Regions from separate parts of the Homo sapiens genome. Here region 1 is linked to region 2. The links come from fine-mapping of genetic effects on gene expression. A gene starts in region 2. The other region holds a variant in brackets. All regions are shown on one strand. Distances are between the middles of the regions.

What was found. PIP is the estimated chance that this variant, and not a neighbour inherited with it, causes the effect.
Region 1: its variant is fine-mapped to the expression of PGAP4 in adrenal gland (GTEx, PIP above 0.99). The same link has a PIP of 0.9 or more in subcutaneous fat and visceral fat.

Annotation. Positions count from the first base shown.
Region 1 is chr9:101,452,033-101,460,374 of GRCh38, forward strand. It overlaps LOC105376184 (a long non-coding RNA gene), which reads left to right. Exons shown (of 4, transcript XR_001746862.2): 3 at 3,346-3,424; 4 at 6,909-7,057. Among named protein-coding and RNA genes, the nearest start is that of TMEM246-AS1, 12 kb to the right of the region's middle. The variant T/A (reference allele first, on the strand shown) is at 4,861.
Region 2 is chr9:101,483,256-101,491,597 of GRCh38, forward strand. It overlaps PGAP4 (post-GPI attachment to proteins GalNAc transferase 4), which reads right to left and starts at 3,918. Exons shown (of 2, transcript NM_032342.3): 1 at 3,694-3,918.

The sequences.
Region 1 (8,342 bases), 31 kb before region 2:
TCGAATGGCTTTGACAAAAATGCTGGTAATGATATGGACAATGAAATCCAGGCTAAGGTGGTCTCAGATGGACATGAAGAACTTTTTGAGAACTGGAGCAAAGGTGACTCTTGTTATGTTTTAGCAAAGTGACTAGCAGCATTTTTCCCCTGCCCTAGAGATTCATGGAACTTTGAACTTGAGAGAGATGATTTAGGGTATCTGGCAGAAGAAATTTATAAGCAGCAAAGCATGCAAGAGGTGACTAGGGTAATGTTAAAGGCATTCGGTTTTAAAAGGGAAACAGGGCATAGAGGTTCAGAAAATTTGCAGCCTGATAATGTGATAGAAAAGAAAATCCCATTTTCTGAGGAGAAATTCAAGCCAGCTGCAGAAATTTGCATAAGTAACAAGGAGCCAAATGTTAATCACCAAGACAAAGGGGAAATGTCTCAAGGGCATGTCAGAGGTCTTCACGGCAGCCCCTCCCATCACAGGTCGGGAGGCCTAGGAAGAAAAGTTGGTTTCATTGGCTGGGTCCAGGTCCCCCCTGCCCTGTGCAGCCTAGGGACTTGGTACCCTGCATTCTAGCCACTCCATCCATGGCTAAAAGGGGACAATGTACAGCTTGGGCTGTTGCCTCAGACTTTGGAAGCCACAAGCCTTGGCAGTTTCCATGTGGTGTTGAGCCTGCAGGTGCATAGAAGTGAAGAATTGGGGTTTGGGAACCTCTGCCTAGATTTCAAAAGATGTATAGAAATGCCTGGATGCCCAGGCAGAAGTTTGTGGCAGGGGTGGGGCCCTCATGGAGAACCTCTGCTAGGGCAGTGCAGAAGGGAAATGTGGGGTCAGAGTCCCCATACAGAGTCCCTACTGGACAGCTCAAGTGGAGCTGTGAGAAAGGGCCACCATCCTCCAGACCCCATAATGGTAGATCCACTGACAGCTTGCACAGTGCGCCTGGAAAAACTGCAGACATTCAACATCAGCCAATGAAGGCAGCCAGGAGGGAGGCTGTACCCTGCAAAGCTACAGGGGCAGAGTTGCCCAAGACCATGGGAACTCATCTCTTACATTAGTTTGACCCAGATGTGAGACATGAAGTCAAAGGAGATCATTTTGGAGCTTTAAGATTTGACTGACCTGCTGGATTTCGGACTTGCATGGGGCCTGTAGCCCCAATGTTTTGGCCAGTTTGGAATGGCTGTATGTACCCAATGCCTGTATCCCCATTGTATCTAGGAAGTAACTAACTTGCTTTTGATTTTACAGGCTCATAGGCAGAAGAGATTTGCCTTGTTTCAGATGAGACTTTGAACTATGGACTTTTGAGTTAATGCTGAAGTGAGTTAAGACTTTGGAGGACTGTTGGGAAGGCATGATTGGTTTTGAAATGTGAGGACATGAGACTTGGGAGGGGTCAGGGTGGAATGATATGGTTTGGCTGCATCCCCACCCAAATCTCATCTTGAATTTCCATGTGTTGTGGGAGGGACCTGTTAGGAGGTAATTGAATCATGGGGGCAAGTCTTTCGCATGCTGTTCTTGTGACAGTGAATAAGTCTCACAAGATCTGATAGTTTAAAAAGGGGAATTTCTCTGCACAAGTTCTTTCTTCTCTTGTCTGCTGCCATGTGAGACATCCTTTTACCTTCTGCCATAATTGTGAGGCCTCCCCAGCCATGTAGAAATATAAGTCCAATAAACCTCTTTCTTCTGTAAATTGCCCAGTTTGGGGTATGTCTTTATCAGCAGTGTGAAAATGGACTAATACACACACACACACTCACACACACATATATACACACACACACATACAGTTTATGTCACTATTATACCTCATTGTAAATGAATAACTAGTCTTCTGGATCTATGTTTTTATCTTATGACCCTGGTTAAGATGATTCACTCTGAGAAATGTATCTGTTCTGAGCCTATAAATAAAATCCAGATATGATGCTGCAGGGCTGTAGTTCAAACCATATGTCATGAGAAATTTACCCTGTGAGGCCTGTAGTCTTGTCCTTTTGATCCCTGGATAAACCCAGACACTACCCCCATAGTTGAAAAAATGCCACTAAATTGCATTATATGTAGGGTTTTGCATTCTGCTTTTTTGTGTTCCATTACATCTTGAGCATTTTCCTATGACATAATCATAGAAAAACCATATCTGAGAATGTAATTTTTAATAGGTCTATAATATTCTAAGATATATATATATACATATATATATGCCTTTATTTATTTGACTGGTAGTGTGACAAGTCCCCCACCAGGATACTTAAGGGTATATGTCTGCTGCCTGAACCCTGAAGACTGGGCAGTGACTCACAGTCATGATGCCCTGCAGAGAACTAAACAAGTGTCCCTGAAAACCCAAATATCCCGGAGAGTATCTGAGAACCTACCAAGAAAAACAGTCTCATTGCTCAAACACAGCAGGCAAAGAGCCAGAAATTAGCTTAAAAGCAGTTTAGAGATGGGAGGTGGTGCGGATCTCGAGAGCTGTCCCGCCACCATCCAGGAGTGCCCTGTGCATAAGTCCTAATAAACTCATCTACTCGTTAAGCTGGACTCGTTCAAGTCATTCTTTGGTCTCTTCATTCCTTCTCAGTTTGGAGGGAACATTAAAGTTCCAAGTTTTTCTTGTAACAAACCAACTTCTGTTATTGGAAGTCTGCCTATTTCTAATTGTTTGCTGTTATTATACATAAAGATGCAATGAATAACCTTATAGGTAAAGCTTTTTATACACCTCTGCTTTTTTCATTCATAAACTTCTAGGACCAGAAATATTAGATCAAATTGAATTAATGCTGTGGCCAACTGCAAATTGTTCCCCAATATCCATTTTCCCCTTCTAAAGTAGTAGAGTTTTAGCTGGGTCTATAGCTACGTCGTTAATGATATTTCTATATAGCCAGCCTGGCAGCTAGATGTGCCTGTGTGACAGGTCTGGCTAGTGGGATGTGAGTGTAATGAAATGATGTGGGCCCATTAAAGAATTATGCTTTGCCAGGCATGGTGGCTCATGCCTGTAATTCCAGCACTTTGGGAGGCTGAGGCGGGAGGATCACGAGGTCAGGAGTTCAAGACCAGCCTGACCAACACGGTGAAACCCCATCTCTAGTAAAAATACAAAAATTAGCCTGGTGTGATGGTGCACACCTGTAATCCCAGCTACTCAGGAGGCTCAGGCAAGAGAATCGCTTGAACACAGGAGGCGAGTTTGCAGTGAGCAGAGATCGCGCCACTACACTCCAGCCTGGGTGACAGAGTGAGACTCTGTCTCGAAAAACAAAAACAAACAAACAAACAAAAAGAATTATGCTCAATTCCCTGTCATTGTTGTTTTTTCCCCAGCTCTTTACTGGTGAGAAGATAGCAAAAGCTGAAGCAGACACAGAATCCACAAGTGGAAAATACAGCAGTGCCATTAAAGGTAATAAAAGATAAAGTTTATCTTTCTTCCAAGCTCTTTATTTTAATTTCTTATAGGATTTTTGTTACTTTTTAATGTTGTTTTAAGTAAAGAAGACTAAAAGTTTAAATCAGTATAAATTTTCATTTTTATATTGTGCCACACCCATTTTAAATGCAAATATAAGAGCACTTAACTCGTGTCGAATCACAAAAATTACAATTTGTATTTTGTGGTTCATACATGGATATGTAGTTCATTCTTACCAGAAGAGTAGGAACAATGCACACACAAAAAATTCAACTGTTTTTATTTCACTGCTTGATAAAATATGTTCTATCAACATGCTTTGCCTTCTACCTACTGATGAGTAAGGAAGGACTGACAGGAAAAGGAACTACAGGTTACCCTATTGTTCCCTTTCTGTGTTATTTTCAAAGTAAGTTCCTGGCTGATACAGGGAAGTAGCACAAGTAATAAAGGATGTGGTGGGGTTCCTTTGTTGTTCATGTTTCTAACAATGCCATTGCTTTCTTTCTGGAACAGAAGCAAGTCTAGTTTGAATGGAATGCTTGGCCTTTTGGGATCTGTCAGTACTCTCTCCCAGACCCCTGTTAGTCATAGACATAACACACTTAACTTGTACTCACTTGGAGTCTCCCCAAACTCCCATGCATCGTGGGTCTACTGGGATTCTGTGGTCAGAGAGCATTGCCGTTACTACATTCAAACATGGTGGCATGACATGATATACCTACTGTGAATGACAGGTGTCATACAAAGGAAGGACAGATGCACCTACTGTGTATTCCTCTGTTTATGTGCATGCTTCATTGTCCCATTGGATTTGACTTACAAAATACAAATTCAAAGATGAAATTATGAAGAATTTCAAGATGGCAGCAGCAGAGCATTAGGCTACACATTGGGCCCTTCTGATTGTGGGGCTCTGTGTGACTGCACAAGACAAACCCTCATAAAGCCAGCTCTGGGTGGCGGAGCCCTGGACTGCCTGCCTACTGGATGTTAAATGAGATTGAAATAAATTTTGACCTAGTTTAAGCTGTTGTATTTTGAGGTCCCTTTTATACACTTTGCATCCTGACTTATGAAAACACTTTTAGTTCTCAAAACGTACTGCCAATTGCATAACAAAGAGACTATGTCCCTATGTTTAGTTAACACCCCCATGAGCAGTATATGACCACAAATGTTTCCCTCTGCTCTTGCTATTGTCTCTATTTTGATATTTCAACAGCATGCCCAATTCAAAATGCCCCAAACCAAACTCATCTCTCCTCCAATATCAAACACAGACACAATATCAAACACAGCAACTAATATTTATTTAGCTTTTAACATGTACCAAGCGTTTTGCAGGCTTATTTCATTTATTAGGTATCATCATTCATTGTGGCCATTTTCCAGATGAGGAAATGGAAGCTTATGTAACTTAC[T/A]GAAGGTAATACTGAGCTGAGATATGATTTCAGTATTTATGGCTCCAAAGCCTATGAGCATACCACTTGTCTCTCCTTTTCTATGATGGCAAAATAATTCCTAAAACAATGGTGGTGTGATTGGGAAAAGAAATGTTTTTCTTTACATCTTGCAGCAAATCAATGTCTACAATAAATTCAGAATTCTAGTATCCTGTCAGATCACTCTGTTCCCATCATTTCTACCATTGCCAACACACCCTGAAAACTAGTGTATTCACCTGGGAGAGTTTGCTCAGGGAAGCGAGGGTTTTTAAAAATCCCCCTAGTGACCTCTTGTGGCTGATGGACACCCTGCTGAGACCCTGCCTCTGGAATCTACCTGGCTTGCTGCTTCATGTTCACCCCTCCCCGGGCTACAGAAAAAGGGCTCCAAGGAAATCAGAGTTAGGAAATGGGTCGTCCCTGGTTTCAAACAAAGGGCATCATTCCAATATGTGTCAAAAATAAGCTCAGAAAATTTGTAAGAGAGATGGGTTTTCTGTTTCCTGGACTTGCCTTTCATATCTTTTTTCTTTCTTTCTTTCTTGCATCCTCTCTCATTTTTCTTAATTTAGGTGAGGAGAAAATGTTGTAATAACATGTAAATCAGATTAGATAAATAATGATGCTGTAACAAGCCTGGTGGCATAATAGTATATACGAAGGTGTTTACTGAAGTAGTGATTTTAACAGAAAATTTATCTATCAATCTATCTATCTATCTGAAGGAGATTTTAAGTGATTGTATTACCTTTATACCGTGAAATACTACAAAGCCATTAAAATGTATATATGAATACACACTACAGACATACAGACATACACACACATACAGGTGAGGAAAAGGGTGCAGGTAAAGAAACTAAGTTACAAAACAACTTGCATGTTATCCCTTTTTTGTAACACTGGATGTATGCTTCAATGTAAAGAGAAGATAAATTCACCAAAATATTAACTATGGTGATCATCTCAGAGTGGTGGAATTACAGAATTTTTTTTGAGACTGAGTCTTGCTCTATCGCCCAGGCTGGAATGCAGTGGCATGATCTCGGCTCACTGCAACCTCCGTCTCCCAGGTTCAAGCAATTCTCCTGCCTCAGCCTCCTGAGTAGCTGGGATTACAGGCGCGCACTACCACGCCCGGCTAATTTTTGTATGTTTTAGTAGAGACAGGGTTTCACGATGTTGGCTGGGCTGGTCTCAAATTCCTGACCTCAAGTGATCTGCCCGCCTTGGCCTCCTAAATTGCTGCAATTACAGGCATGAGCCACTGCGCCTGGCCAAGGAATTACAGATTTTTAAAAAATTATTTACAGTTTTCTGTATTGCAGTGGTTCTCAACTTAGTACATTAACAACCTATGAAAAATCTGAATGCTCAGCCCACTCTAGACAAATTAAGTCAGAACTACTGGAAGTGAACCCAGGTTCTAGTAATTTTTTAAATTACCCAGATGATTCAATGTGCAATCAAGCTTGAGAATGAGTATATTGTTTGAATGCTTTACAATCAGTGATCATGTTATAAAGCAGAAAGAAGGGAGAGCCAGAAGAAGTTATCTTCATTTTGCTAATTTATGTGCAGTGTGCATGTGTGTATACTGTGTATGCAGTGTGCATGTGTGGCGGTTGCAGACAAACTAAGGCTAAAGCTGGTAAAAATCCAAAGGAACACAGTAAAGTCACCTAGTTGATCATGAAATCTGGTCAGAAAAACCTGGCTTTGTTTCTTTGTTCTAATACTTCCTGGCTATGTGACCTTAAGCAGCTCACTTCACCTGTTTGAATGTCCATTTTCTTTTCTAGTAAGAGTAAAAGGGAAATTCTATTCCCATAGAATTGTAGGATTCAGTGTCATATTGCATGAACAAGGGCTATGTAAGTTGCTAGTTATAATATGTGGTGGAGTAAAGAAGTAGAAAAGAAAGCAGGAGAAATAACTGAGCACTGAAAGACAAAATATTAACATTCCAGGAATGTTAATATTTTTTGTTTCTCCTGAATGCTTTATTTCCCTAACAAACATAGTTGCTGAGGGCCCGCTTTGCACCAGACACCATTTTAAGGGATAGAAGAGAAAACCTAATGACAGTCTGATTGCCGTCAAGAGGCTCACATGTGAAAGGGAATGAGGAGCTGCAACAAATAGCACAATGCGGTAAGTACTGTAAAGACGTGTGCCCAAGGCAGTAAGAGGCGCCAGTGCCTCTTTCAGAGAAGGGGAGGCAAGACTTGTGAAGCCTACAGAGAGCTAAGATCAGGAAATACTGGCTACATGCTTTGTTCTCTAGGGGGAGCTCAAGGCTTTCTCCTTTGATATCTGAATGGAATCAGTACTTCCAGTGAGAAGGGTGTATGTAGATAGATAAGTTGAACTGTGTTAGGATAAATGCTCCAATGCCACTTGATCTTGGAGTTCTTTCTTGTTAGGTATTTTCTATTGAATGGCGTCTTCCTTTGCTCCCGTGAAGCTGGTTCTATGGAAAGACATTGGGTTATCCCTCCCAGTTAAAAATGTTGCTCCCTCCACTTAGAAGACTAAGGAAGAACCAGAGTGAAGGAAGCCCCATGGGCAGGAAGAGGACTCATTTGGGCTCAAGACATTCAGTCCAACCTAGCTCACAAGGATGGATGAGATCATGATTCGGGACCATAACTTGTCACTTGTGCACATACTCTAAACGGTGGCGTTTTTCAAGGTATTGAAAGGAGGTGGCAGGATAGGATTAAGAAATTTGATCCAGACAGGCTTATCAAATTCACTACAACCAACAGATGGTTCTAGATTTTTTTTTTTTCATTAATGTTTCATGACTATGTGCTCTCGATTTGAAGTTTCAAGGTCCTCTTGAAGTTTTTTTTGTTTGTTTTTTTAGACAGGGTCTTGCTCTGTCACCCAGTGCAGTGGTGTGATCATCATGGCTCAATGCAGCCTCTTACTCCTGGGCTCAAGTGATCCTCCCACTTCAGCCTCCCAAAGCATTGGGATTACAAGCATGAGCCACACACACCTGGCTCAGAGTCCTCTTGAATCTGGCAAAAACTTGATTTGGAATTTTCTAAAATTTCTCTTATTTGTTGTAGCAACTGTATTTCATGGGAAGATATTTCTCTGATAGATCGATGCTCTTCTTTTTTATCTCTTTGTATCACCTATAAATGCTCCCATTTGCACACTCTTAAAGAAGTAAGCTTAGGATAGTTTCTTTTTTTTTTTTTTTTAGACGGAGTCTCGCTCTGTCGCCCAGGCTGGAGTGCAGTGGCGGGATCTCGGCTCACTGCAAGCCCCGCCTCCCGGGTTCACGCCATTCTCCTGCCTCAGCCTCCCAAGTAGCTGGGACTACAGGCGCCCGCCACTACGCCCGGCTAATTTTTTGTATTTTTAGTAGAGACGGGGTTTCACCGTTTTAGCCGGGATGGTCTCGATCTCCTGACCTCGTGATCCGCCCGCCTCGGCCTCCC
Region 2 (8,342 bases):
TATAAAATTGGTAGTATCAAAGAGCTGGTCATATACTGTGTAGAGATCGACTTATTTGTAAATGTTTCCAGAACACTTATGTGCCAGGCACTGTTCTAAGCATCTCATCTATCGATCCTCATAAAAAGCCTCCAAGAAGTATGACTATTAAGCCCATTTTATACTTTAGAAAACTAAGTTTTTAAGCAGGGTGGCAAAACTTGAACCCAGGCAGACTGTGTCCAGAACCCACATTCTCAACCAATATGCACTACTGCCTACATAAATTTGGAGCCCAGGAAAATCAACTGAAAAACCATTAGAAATGGCAATAGACTCAAAACATGGTTGGTACCAGAATTAATATGTAAAAATAATATATAATATACATAGCAAGTATATATACACATGTACTATATATATGCATTACATATCCATATCTGTATCTATATTATCTATATTATAATGACTGCTTTCATGTACATGATCACCAATGAACTAAGGGAGTAAAAGATCCCAGTCAAAAGGGAAAAAAATAAGCAACTCAAATATCTAGAAATAAATTTCAGAAATATGCAGAATATACACACATACTACAAAATTCTACCAAAGGGTAATTAAAAAGTCATTAATAAACAGAAAAATAATGCTTAGGTGGAAAGACTTGGTAATAGAGCTCCCTTTCTCCATAATTAATCTCTATATTTAACATCTGAATTTAATTTACTTCGAGGGAGTGTCACAGTTCAACAACTAGGCACTTTAATATAAATTGGTGCAATCTTTGGAGGAAATGTTGGGGTGTTGGGGCAGTATCTATAAAAATTTTATAAGTGCATCCCCTTTGACATAACGATCCTACTTCTAGGAATCTACTCTGCAGAAATGCCAACACATGCTACCAAAGATGGATAAGAAATGTTGAGTGCTGTTTTGTATGCAGTAGGAAGAAAAAGAGAAAGAGGGGCAGAGGAACAAAGGGAGAAAGGGAAGAAAGGAAGGAAGGAAGAAAAAGGAAAGAAGACAGAAAGAGAGAAGGAGAGAGTGAGGAAGAGGGTGGGAGGGTGGAAGGAAGAAAGGAAGAACTGCAGGCAAATGAAATGCCTAGCAAAGGGAACAGATTTTTAGAGAATCATAAAAGGGTATGCTGTGGAAATGTTAAGAAGAGAAAGGTTTAAATATGTTGACATAAAAGAAATCTTAGCTAGGTTTGTGCTTTGGACTGAATGTTTGTCCTCCTCCTGCCCAGCCAAAATTCGTGTTATAAATCCTAATCTCCAATATGATGGTATTTGGAGATGGGGTCTTTGGAAGGTAATCAGGTCATAAGGGTGCAGACCTCAGTAATGCATGTTCTTTATTAGTGTCCTTATAAGAAAAGACAGGAGAGATCACTTCTCTTCTCTGCTTTCTCACATGTAAACCGGAAAGAGAGCCCTCACCAAAACTTGACCATGCTGGCACCCTGATCTGGAACTTCCAGCTTTCAGAATTTTGAGAGATAAATGTGTCTGTTGTTTAAGCCACCTAGTCTTTGAGAATGTGTTACAGCAGCTCAAGTAGACTAAGACCAGAAGGGAGAAATGCAAACTATATCAGTGCAAATTACAGAAAAATGTACAGAGATATGACCATTTTATTTTTAATGTGGAGTATAATTTAGTGAAGGAGAAAAGAAGGGTATGGGGATGGCAATTTCCTGTTTTGATATCTACACTTCTGCAAAGATCATTACTTTTATAATCATAATTAAGCATTTGATTCAACACTGAGTCTTGTGTTAGACACTGGGAAGGTGAACATGACAGTCAGGGCACCTGTTAAGTCCATTTTTAAATTTGTGATTTAAGTTGCTATAGCTATAATAAATTAAATGATGTATATATATATCTGTTTGTGGATTTTGGCATCTATCTCTCTCTGCATTGTGGTGCCAGGGCCATGTTATTTTCATTATGAAAGCTTTATAACAGGTTTTAATATCTGACTAGGCAAATTCTCTCTCATTACCCAGGATGATAATTTTCTAGGCCTTTAAAAATTAATTTTATTGAGGTGCAGTTTACATACAGTACAATGCACCACTTAAATATATATATATTTCGATGAGTTTTGTCAAATTTATACGCCCATATAACCATCAAAATAAAAAATTGACCAAAGTATCCAAAAGATCATTTGGAATTAGAACTAGTAAAAATTAACAGAAAATACTCGCTATAGTGCAACACGTGACAAAGAATTACTACTTCAATGTGTAATACACATAAAGTGTTTAAAAGTCAGGAGGAGAAAGATACTCCAACTGAAAAATGGGCAGAAGAATTAACAATCAACTCACCTACAGAAATGCAAAAGGCTACTACACAGAGGAAAAAGTGTTAATTCCCATGGGTAATCAAAGACATGCAAATTAAGACAAGATACCATTTTTTGGTCCACGCTTTTGATTTAAAACTTCAAATGTGTATACATAGAGAAAATTTTAAGATATGCAGAAAATCTAAACCATCTAGAAGTTGAAGTTTTAAGTTATTTTTATTTTGCTTCTCCTTTGGATTTTTGTTTACTGGATGTTTTCTAATATGTGTATCCTTACAACATTCTAATAATTCTAATAATGTTGATTTTCTCTTCTCACCTCATAAAGTACCTAGTGCAGTGCATTCTAGAAATTCACCCCTAAAAAAAAAAGCTATTTCCCCTATAGAAGGAGAAACACACACATGCACGCGCACACACACCCGCATGTGTTGCTAATGGTCCGCATGGTGAGATCATCATTGGAGCCGCCCTGCGGTCCCCCGGAGAGAGCCTGGGCCGAGCAGAGGATGCGGGTCACAACGACCCTGCAGGAGCTCACGCCCCAAGACACCGCGAGCGCAGTGCGACACTAGCGACGCCGGAGCCAAGGGCCAGAAAGAGGGCGAGACACACCCAGGTGGATCTAATTAACCCTCCCTCTTGGAAAAAGAATGGGGGACGATGTCCAGGGCCCTGGATCTAGTGTCTGTCGCTGACCTTGGGCAGTCCCTGCCACGCTTGAGCCTCAGTTTCCCACCCGTAGGCCGAGCTGACCGTCTCCATCGCTGCGCTCCTTCCCTTCTGCTGGTTTTTCCTGGTCCTGGGAGGGACGCCTTCCTCTGCCCAGTCGCCCTCCCCCAGCCCTTGGCTGCGAGGTCGCCCGCAGAAACCCAACACTGCTGCCGCGCTCTCGGCGCGCCCGGCGAACCTAAGGTGTGGACGCGCCGCGAGGGTCCCCTGCTTGCGGGCGGCCATTAGGCGCCAGGCCCCTTGGCGCTTCGGCCCTGCTAGGCTCGGCGAGGGTCTTACCCAGACTGGCACGCGCCCCGCTCGCGTCCTTCTATTGACCTGTCAGCGCAGCTGGCGCAGGCAAGGGCCAGGGAGGCGCCCCCGAGACACTCAACCATCCCCGCACTGATGCGGGCCCCTGCTGCCCTGGGGACCCCTGCGGGGTCCTCGCAATCCTCCGGCAGGAAGCGGTCGGAGCTGCGGGCAGGGCCGCTAGGCAACCCGCCTGCCCGAGGCGCACTGCCCGGGGCACAGGCCCTCTGCGATGACTCTCCCCAACCCCCAGCTGCCCTGCTTGTGCCAGCTGTGGCCACCCCTAATCCTTGTCCCCTCGCTCTAGTGTCCAGGGCTCCGACCACCGCGCCAGAAGGGCTGGGCAGATCGTGCGCAACAGAAACCTACCCGGTTGGGGCGACCAGCTCGGTCCCCTGCGCGCGCCGAGGGCCGCCTCTGGTATTGCCCAGGCTGGCTAGCTCATCCCGGTGGAGGCGCCATCTCCGGGGCCCGGAAGGAGCGGGCGCAGCGCGGTTTGGGTGTGCGCCGGAGCCTCACCTCCTCCCGCCTCGCAGCTCAGGCGCAGGGCTCCCCTTGCTCAGGCGGGCCATGTGACCCGCGAGCTGCGGAGAGACCGCGGCCCCCAAAGCGGCTTGGGGAAAAAGGACGGCAAAAGGCGCCAACTGATGGGCAGCCAGGGAAAAGCAGGAGTCGCCCCCAAGTCACGCAAACAGGAAGCCTGTTTCTTTTGTGAGGGGACTAGAAGCCAGCATTATATTTCATCAGGTGTGTACATAGAGACTTATTCACACCAATGGAACGATATCTCTCAATGCGTGTAAACGCTTCATGAGAAAGCTGTTACTTTGGGTCTTGAATGTTTTTCAGTCTTCCCCAAACCCTCAATTTAAACACAAACGGCCACGAGAGACATAACGCCTGAGGTATGAGAAAGTATGCACATTGATTGAGAACAATCCCGGCAAAGCAAATAGGAAAAAGATACGGAATGATCCGAGGGAGGAAAAATGTGGGGGTCAAAAGAAAAGTAACAGCCTCCTACATTCCACCTTGGACTTTCCCTTCTGAATGGGTTTTCAGCACACAATTGTACGGCCTTACTCAGTGCTTCTAATCCTAGGTTTGCCTGTCTAGGCCACAGGTTAGCAACTACAGTTTGCTGCCTGTTCTTGTACAGCCCACAAGCTAAGAATGTTTTTTGCAATATTTCATGGTTAAAAATGGAAGAATATTTCAGGGCTACGAAAATTATATGAATTCAAAATTTGATGATCGTAAACAAAGTTTTACTGCAACATAGTCATCATTTACATATTGTCTATGGCTGCTACCATGAAAGAACAGCAGAGTTGGATAGTTGTGACAGAGACCTTATGACCCACAAAACCTAAAATATTTACTGCCTGATTTGCCAACACCTGCTCTAAAAGGTCTGTTCAGTGGTCACAAGATAAAGCATTAAAGCCAGTAAATGCTCATATGATTTCTTCTTGTGTAAGTAAAATTGATACTAGATATTAACTTCCTTTAGAACCTTACAAACACCCACCTGAGCCCCCATTCATCATCTACTCTTTCAGCCAGCATTTACTGAAGAATGGTTCTGACATACTGCCATCACTATAGATGACAATGAAGTAAGAATGAGGTGTGGATCCTTCACTCAAGGAATTTGTCATTAGGAATGCTGGAAAACCTATATCTGAGGCTGGAAAGTATGAGAGCTGGATATAGCACAGAAAGGGAGCTTGGGAAGGTAGTTTCATTTCCTGGGAGAAAAAATGGGAGTCTGATATTCCGAAATTGGAGGATTGTAACCAACACAAGTTGAATTCAGTTCACTGTCATTGGCTCAGTGCTGGGGTCTAATCTATTTACTGGCTATGACAAATTAACTCCTCTGTGCCTCAATGTTCTCATCTATATATTGGGGACAGTGATATTTCCCTCATAGGTTTGTTGAGAGGTTTACATGAGATAATGTATATAAAGTGCTTAGCATTCTACCTGTCAAAATATCTAGCTTTCTATAAATGGTTGGTAGTTATTCACTTGTTTAACAAAAATTCATTGAGTACCTATTATGATGTTCCAGGCAATGTCTGTGCTGTCCAATCTCATGGTCACTAGTCACATGTAACTACTTACATTTTAATTAATTAAAATTAAATAAAATGTAATAATCAGTCCCTCAGTAGCACTAGCCACATTTGAAATGCTCAGTACCTACATGTGGTTAGTGCTACTGTATTAGATAGTACAGCTATAGAACATCCCATCATCACAGAAAGTTCTATGAGATAGTGCTTTTCTAGAGAGTAAGGATTCAGCTATGAACAAAACCAAGTCTCTGCCTTTAGGGAGCTTACATTTGGGTGGACAATAGATAATAAGCAAATAAATGCATACTATATCAGGTATTGATAAATATTTTAAATAGTAAGATCAAACACTTCCCTAGTACTTTCTATGGCTGTTACTGTCCTGAGTGCTTTTTACTAACTCTTAATCACTCCAACAACCCCATGAGACAGGTAAGCTAAGTAACTTACCCAAACTGCTAGAAAGAGGAAAAGCCAAAATCCAAACTGATGAAATCCGGCTTCAGAGTCCATTCTCTTAATCAACATGCTATATTTCTTCTCAAAGCAAAGCAAAAATAGAAAAAAAAGAAGAATAATAAAATAAGAGGTTAGACACTAGTAGTGGGTACTATTACAATTATTATAGTAAACATCTTAACCTCTATGCAAGTAGGGTATTTCATTGGTTAGGCTTTGGCCAGAAATAACACACTACAACAGGATAATGAAAAAAATCTATTTTCAAAGGTGTGGGTGAAATTAAAGAAAACCAATAAGGCATAGTGCAGTGCATACCCTAGGGCTTGATACCAAGGAACTATTACTTATCCTAGGCCTGATGAGCAAAGTAAGGAAACAGTGATTAAAACAACAAAAGAATAATTGTAAAAAGGGAGACATCCTATGGGACCTGTCACTAATGGAATGAGGCAGTGAACCTATGGTGACCCATCAGGGAAAGAGCCAGGAGAATAAATAGCATAACTCTACTTTCTTCTGCCATCTTATCTCCTGCTAGTGTCTCCCATTGGCTGAACCCAACCAGAAATCAGAGGGCAAGAGAGCCCTTGATGCAATCCATGTAGCTCAAATTCCCAGGACACAGAGCTGACTGGATGACCAGGAGGCATAAACAGAAGATATCCAGTAAAGTCTTCTTACTCTGAACATCTTCTCTTGTACTTTGTTCATATAAAAATTGAACAAACCTTTTGGGACACATAAAAAAAGTTCCAGTAACTATGGTGTCATAATAGAGTAATTGAATTTGAACATATACCTGAGACATAAAATATTAATCGTTACTATTACCCTTCCTAATGGGAAGAGTGGGGATGGAGGACAAACAATACGAAACATAACTGTTAGAATCCCTACTTCTATGGTTGGTCATGAAATTTAAGTTGAGAATCATAGCTTTCTTCTTCCACTACCCATTGCACATTCCCCTTTCTGCCAGCACTTCACTGTATAAGGCTCTTTACAGAGGCCTCCTACAAGGCTCTTTGTAAAGGCTCTTTACAAACTTTTTTATTTTATTTTATTTTTTTACTTTATTTTTTGAGACACAGTCTCAGTCTGTCGCCGAGGCTGGAGTGCAGTGATGCAATCTCAGCTCACTGCAACCTTCACTTCCCAAGTTCCAGCAATTCTCATGCCTCAGCCTCCCGAGTAGCTGGGATTACAGGCACATACCACCATGCCCAGCTAATTTTTGTATTTTTAGTAGAGCTGGGGTTTCACCATTTTGGCCAGGCTGGTCTCAAACTCCTGACCTGAAGTGATCTGCCCGCCTCAGCCTCCCAAAGTGCTGGGATTACAGGCGTGAGCCACTGCGCTCAGCCCAAACCTTTGATCCTACAAGATTTAGGTTCTTGGTGCATCTCTTGTTACTGAGTTCCTTCAGTTTTCCACTGATCAGGACTATTGGATATGTGTGTACTCACATGGACTTGTTAATGAACTTCTAGGTTCTAGATATAGTCCTCCTTGATTTGATTGTATAGCAGCAACTAATTTCCCATTGGTATTGTAATCAATTACTTAAGGCTATATAGTGGTGCCTTTCTTTTCTTGTTCCAGTTTCCAGCTCAATAGGCTGTGAATTCCCTGGTGGAAGTACTTCTTCTTTGGATATGAGAGTTTCCAAACCTGCTAAGTTTGTGGGGCTTGGAAGAAAAAAATATCTCTGTAGTAAGTTTTTTGCTGTAATAGTGAGAAGAATATATCTTTGCTTCCTGGATGTCTGAATTCTCGCTATCGGCAAATTATGCCACACGTTGGCTATTGGTTTAAGGAACGTGCTGCATTCTTGAGGATAGCACCTCAACTTCTCATGGTGCTGTCTCACAGCTGGTGTCATAACTGAGCCTTCAGAAGACCATTACACCATTTAATAATACCAGCTTCTTCTGTTTGATGGGATCCATGGTAAGACCACTGAATTCCAAAGATATTAGTTAATTGTCATACTTCCTTTGCTGTAAAATGGGTCCCCTGGGCAAAAGTAATATGTGGTAGAGCAAGGCAATGGTACGCTTATTCTGTAAGTTCATGAATAGTGGTATTAGCAGAAGTGCTGTGGCCTAGGAAAGAAAATTGGTACCCAGAAATCTCTACAGAAGACAAATGGTTATTCCCCCCCGATAATAGATGTGCAGTATAACCAACCTGGCACCAGCTAGCTGGTTGGTTCTTCTGGGAAATAAAGCCATATCACAGAACCAGCATTTGATCATTGCTGTTGACAGTTTGAGCACTTAACATGAACGGTAGCAAAATCAGCACATTATTGAAATTGATCAGTACAATTATTGAAATCATTCAGAATCTGTCCCGACTGACATGGCCATTTTGTACATAGGCCCATTAAACAAGCACTACTTGACTAAAGAAGCTGATTCACATCTACCAGACAGGTCATATTGACTACCTGATTCAGATCAAAATATT